Regions from separate parts of the Homo sapiens genome. Here region 2 is linked to region 1. Evidence: fine-mapped expression QTL. A gene starts in region 1. The other region holds a variant in brackets. All regions are shown on one strand. Distances are between the middles of the regions. Region 1 holds the start of SSH2 (slingshot protein phosphatase 2). Region 2 overlaps ANKRD13B (ankyrin repeat domain 13B).

Region 1 (2,905 bases):
AAACCAGGTCTTCTGATTCCTATGGTAGTGCTCTTTCTCACTGCAAGGTTAATGGACTTAAGCCTTTCATCTTCCAAAAGAATTTCTGAAGAGTATGTTACCATGAAAAAGTAGAACATCATTGTTGCCCTCCCTGAGTCAGAGAATCAACATACAAGTACTAAGACCTACAGATTTGAATATTACTTTTTCTAGAATGATACTTTGGTTCATAAAGCACATATATTTCATTTATTTGAGTTCATTCAGCTTCTAGCTATGTGTATTTTTTGGCTATGTATCTAGTTTCCTCTTTGGTCTCCCATGCATTGGTTCAAAGTTCTTACTTCTGAAACTTGCCTTCTCTTTTCCTGTTTACTACGGAGCTCTGGGGAAAACACAGTCAGATTGTTTAATCTGTGAACCATACATCTTTGTTTAATTTTGTCTCACAGGCACTCCTGATCACCACCAGGGGGCAAAAGCCTACCAGCTGGCTTCTCTGCACTACACTCTACATAGGACTGTACAGTACAGGGACCCTCAGTGTCTGATTCTTGATGGAACCTCCCTGCTAATTATTTCAACCACAGGGCCCCAGGGAGAGAACAAAGGCTCAGCACAGAGGACTCTTGTGGCGTTTAACCGTACAGCAGCCAGAAAGAGCTCATGACAGCCCTGTCAGTTTAAAAGAAGCAATGAGATCCAAGAGTGTTTGAGTGACAAACAGGAGGGGGTGGGTTTTAATAACTGCAAACTCCCAAGTGTGTGTGTTTTCTACAGCTTTGATATGTACGGTGGTATTTACCAGCTCATCCACTCAAGCTGAGAAATAGCCTTGTCAACTCTCTTTCTTTGTGTAAATAATCAGTGATATTTGCATTGTGCAATTTTTTTCCTTTTTAATCTTGATTTTCCATTACATTCTTTGCTTATGTTCTGCAGACAATTTACCCCTGAGAAAACCATTCCCTTAAAATATCTTTTAATCTACATTTTTACATAGGTCTATGAAAGAATGACATTTAGAGACGAAGGAGAAGAAAGCTTAACGAGCAAATCCTGTTTAATTAAAAGACTGTCTTCACAGCAGGAGGCAAGTGAGAGGTCAATAGCAGGCTGGACCCTCACAACCGGCTTCCTCGGACTCCCAGGCGCGCTCAGCTTCTCTTCTCCTCAGGAATAATGAATAAGTCTTTAGACAGGCAATAGAGGAAGCATGAGGGTACCACAAACCTTTCCAGGGTATCAAACGGAAAATGGTTTTCTTTCCAGAAGTCTCATCATAAAACATAGACGGAAGGGGGGGAAAAGTTAAGAAAAAGCCCCCGAGAGCCGGGGTGAAGGGAGTAAACTGGTCTAGCCCAGTTCTGTCTGCGCCCAGTGAGAGGGTTTGAAACTCCGCGGAGCCCTTTCCCAATAGAAAACGTGTTTGCTTCAGGATTTTCATCTCAGCTGCTTTTTTTTAAGGTTGGTTAAGCTGTGCGCCGCCCCACCTCATAAAATGGTTGTCTCTCAGGAGTGAAGACTCCAGCGGCCCCCCGCCCTGGGACCCCTCACCGGGCTGGCTCCCTTCGGCCCCTTCCCCCACCCCACTCCACAGCACCCAGTGCTGGCAAACCGCGCGATTCCAGCACGAAGGAGGAAACCCAGGAGGGTGCGGCGGCCCGAGGCGCACGCACTCGGCCAGCTTCCGGCAACTCAAGGGTTACGACCAGGCGGCGGCGCGCGCCGAGGGGAGAGGCGGTAGCTGACAGGTGGCGCCTGCGCACTGGGAGCGCTCATTGTGCCCCGCAGCTGCGGAACCGCCCGCCCGCCGCCCGTTCGGAGCGTCAGTCGGCGACAGTCTGGTGGTGGGTGCGGAGTCTGCGGCCGTTCCCGCGGCCTCCTCCTCCTCCCCGTTCCCTTCACCCCCACCCCGCACCCCTTTCCCCATCCCGGCTCCGTCACCCTCCCGTCCCCCACACTCAGGACAAGAATGCCCTGCCCGGAACAACCCAGCAGCGCCTAGATGGCTTTGGTCACGGTCCAGCGGTCACCTACCCCCAGCACCACCTCCAGCCCCTGCGCCTCGGTGAGTCCTTCCTGGCGGCCGCTCCGCTTGCTTCTGTCACTGCGGCTCCGCTTTGCCTCAGCGGGTCCCGCCGAACGCCACTGCGCACGCGCCGCGCCGCTTCCCAGGCCTTGGCACTCGGCTGCCGCGAACCCCCCCACACCCCCATGTTAAAGACTAGCAGCAGGAACTACAAGACGTTGATTTTTGCCCCCATCACCCTGAGCACCTAGCTCCTCACAATCCTCGCCCTGAAATCCCCTGTGGCATGCCTCCCTATGGCTTGAGCACTTCCTTTTGGTAATGAGTCATTCTTGCTTTTCACCCTCCCCCTTCTTTTACCCTCTGTTGCTCTGCTGCAGGGAGGGGACCGTGAGCCTCCTGCGTTGCCCCTTACCCACACCCACATCTCTTACCCACACCATTTCATAGACCTGTTCAGTATTTGCACACTGCACACCCTTCTTCGTACTCGCCAGGGTGTGTGCCTTCCCCTAGTCACTTGCTGGCTTTCTTTTGCTCTGTACTGTTCAGGCTTTGAACTGCCCAACCGTAGTTATTCCTTGGTTTCTCCCGCCTGCCCCCCACCCCAGAGGGTAGCAATGATCTCTGTTTCCTGGACCTCTTACCTTTCCTTTATGAGGTCCCGAAGCATCTGGTGCTGCTTAGTGATCAGTGTCAAATTATTTCCGTCTTACAGATATTTATGCCTTACACTCATTGCTCGTGATCATTCTTGTTCTAAGGTCGTGTTTGTATGGCTCGTTACCTCAGATGCCTATGCCAATAAAGCATGCTCTCAGAAGGAAAATACCCAGTAACCAGCCTTTCCCCGCTGGGCCCGTCTTTGCCTTCTCTCCTCGCCCCACCCCC
Region 2 (2,905 bases), 330 kb after region 1:
GGCCTGTGCCTGTAGTCCCAGCTACTCAGAGGCTGAGGTGGGAGGATCGCTTAAGCCTGGGAGGTTGAGGCTGCAGTGAGGTATCATCACACCTCTGCACTCCAGGCTGGGCAACAGAGTGAGACGCTGTCTCAAATATATATATACATATGCGTGTGTGTGTATATATATATGTGTGTGTGTATGTGTGTGTGTGTGTGTGTTTGTGTGTGTATATATATATATTTCTCTATATAGAAAATATATGTAAAGAGAAATAGCTGTTTTTAGAAGTCCAGAACTGTGATCCCTGAAGTAAGGAAAATGAACAAGGTGAGCTCTGTAACATCCCTGGATTTCTGCCTGGAGGAACATTCCAGACTGTAATTCAAGGAGGGGAAGCCCGAGCAGAGCATGGTGCTCTTCCTGAGTTGAGAAGATGGAGACAGGATTCAGGGAAGCCAAGGTATTAAAGGTTGCAGCAGAGCACAGTTCTGGAAAAGAGTAAACTACTCAAAAAACTCCAGAAATCTGCATAGGGGTCTCTTCAAGTCTTCCTGAATACTAAACTTCACATGTGTATAGTGAAACTCAGTAAGACCACACAAAAAGGAGCAATAAAATGGTAAATTCTCAGAGCTCACCAAAAGCAAGGAGATAATCAAGCTCCAGCCTCCTAGAGTGGAGATGCATATTTAATCAGACCTCAGAAGGGTTATGCCTTAGCAGTAGAGCTAAACTATCCCTAGAGAAAAGGCTCACCTAGACCCACCCTAACAGATTAAAAATTAGCCTCAGGCCGGGTGCAGTGGCTCATGCCTGTAATCCCAGCACTTTGGGAGGCGGAGGCGGGCAGATCACCTGAGGTCAGGAGTTCAAGACCAGCCTGGCCAAAATGGCGAAACCACATCTCTACTAAAAATACAAAAAATTAGCCGGGCTTGGTGATGGGTGCCTGTAATCCCAGCTACTCAGGAGGCTGAGGCACAAGAATCACTTGAACCCAGGAGGCGGAGGTTGCAGTGAGCCAAGACTGCACCACTACACTCTGGCCTGGGTGACAGAGCAAGACTCCATCTCAAAAAAAAAAAAGAAAAGAAAAGAAAAAGAAAAAGAAAAATTAGCATCAAAGGCCAGGCACGGTGGCTCACACCTCTAATCCCAGCACTTTGGGAGGCTGAGGCAGGCAGATCACTTGAGCCTAGGAGTTCAAGACCAGCCTGGGCAACATACCAAAACCCCATGTCTACAAAAAATACAAAAAATTAGCCAGGTATGGTAGCATGTGCCTGTAGCCTCAGCTACTCAGTGACTGAGGCAGGAGGATCCCTTAAGCCCAGGAGGTTGAGGCTGCAATGAGCTGAGATTGCCCCACTGCACTCAAGCCTGGGTGACAGAGCAAGACTCTGTCTCAAAAAAAAAAGCCTCAAAAAGGTCAAACTGATTTGCAAGTAATTTACCTAGTCTGCCTGAACAAAGCCCAACACTCTTTAAAGAACAATAACAAATCCAGATGCTTAACATCATATTTACAATGTCCAAAATTCAGTTAAAAATTACTAGATATGCCAAAAAGTAGGAAAATAAAACTTATAGGCAGGGTGCGGTGGCTCACGTGAGCCTGTAATCCCAGCATTTTGGGAGGCTGAGGCGGGTGGATCACGAGGTCAGGAGATCGAGCTTGCAGTGAGCCGAGATGGCGCCCCTGCACTCCAGCCTGGGCAACAGAGAGAGAGACT[C/G]CATCTCAAAAAAAAAAAAAAAAGAAAGAAAATATAACCTATAATCAGGAGAAAAATAATTTCATAGAAACAAAACTCAGAAATGATAAAGATGATAGATGGCTCAATATACTCAAGAGTTTAAAGAAAAACATGAAAAAGATGTTCATGAGGAGAGGAATGAGAGGTATAAAAAAGAACCCAGTGGACCATCTAAAGATAGTAAGTACAGTAACTGAAATGAAAAATTCACTGAATGGAAATAACAGCAGATTAGACACTGCACAATTTAAAAATCAGTGAATTTGAAGACAGCAATAGAACTTTCCAAACTGAAGCACAGAGGAGAAAAACAGTACTGAAAAATAAAGTTGGCTGGGCTTCTATAGTCCCAGCACTTTTGGAGGCCAAGGCGGGAGGTTGGCTTGAGTTCAGGAGTTTAAGACCAGCCCAGGCAATACAGCAAGACTCTGTCTCTACAAACAAAACAAAACAAAACAAAACAACTTTTACATTAGCTGGGCATGGTGGCAAGCAGCTGTAGTCCCAGCTCCTCTGAAGCTGAGGCAGGAGGATCCCTTGAGCCCAGGAGTTCGAGGCTGCAGTGAGCTATGATCACGCCACTGCACTCCAGCCTGGGCAACAGAGCAAGACCCTGTCTCTATGGAGCCTCATAATCTGTAAGACATTATCAAGCATTGTAACATATATCTATTGGAATCCCAAAGGACAGAATAAAGAAGTAGGACAAATAAGACAAATTTAGAGAAATAGGCCGGGTGCGGTGGCTCACGCCTGTAATCCCAGTACTTTGGGAGGCCAAGGCGGGTGGATCACAACATCAGGAGTTTGAGACCAGCCTGGCCAATATGGTGAAACCCCATTTTTACTAAAAATACAAAAATTAGCCAGGCGTGGTGGTGGGCACCTGTAGTCCCAGCTACTTGGGGGCTGAGGCAGGAGAATCGCTTGAACCCGGGAAGGGGAGGTTGCAATGAGCCGAGATCGTGTCACTGCACTCCAGCTTGGGCGACAGAGGGAGACTCCATTTCAAAATAAGTAAATAAATAATAAAAGAAAGAAAGAACGTCCAAAATTTTTCCAAACTTGATAAAAACTACTATGGTGGGTTGAAGAATGGTGCCCCTCCTAAGACATGTCCACATCACATTCTGACCCTCACAGCCTATGAATGAGACCTTATTTCA

Evidence for each region. PIP is the estimated chance that this variant, and not a neighbour inherited with it, causes the effect.
Region 2: its variant is fine-mapped to the expression of SSH2 in whole blood (TOPMed, PIP above 0.99).

What each region holds. Positions count from the first base shown.
Region 1 is chr17:29,929,086-29,931,990 of GRCh38, reverse strand. It overlaps SSH2 (slingshot protein phosphatase 2), which reads left to right and starts at 1,763. Exons shown (of 16, transcript NM_001282129.2): 1 at 1,763-2,053. The coding sequence starts at 1,991. It also overlaps a transcript of EFCAB5 not described here. RefSeq lists silencers at 581-750, 1,484-1,573, 1,724-2,003, 2,514-2,563.
Region 2 is chr17:29,602,714-29,605,618 of GRCh38, reverse strand. All of the region lies in intron 1 of ANKRD13B (ankyrin repeat domain 13B), which reads right to left. Among named protein-coding and RNA genes, the nearest start is that of ANKRD13B, 11 kb to the right of the region's middle. The variant C/G (reference allele first, on the strand shown) is at 1,719.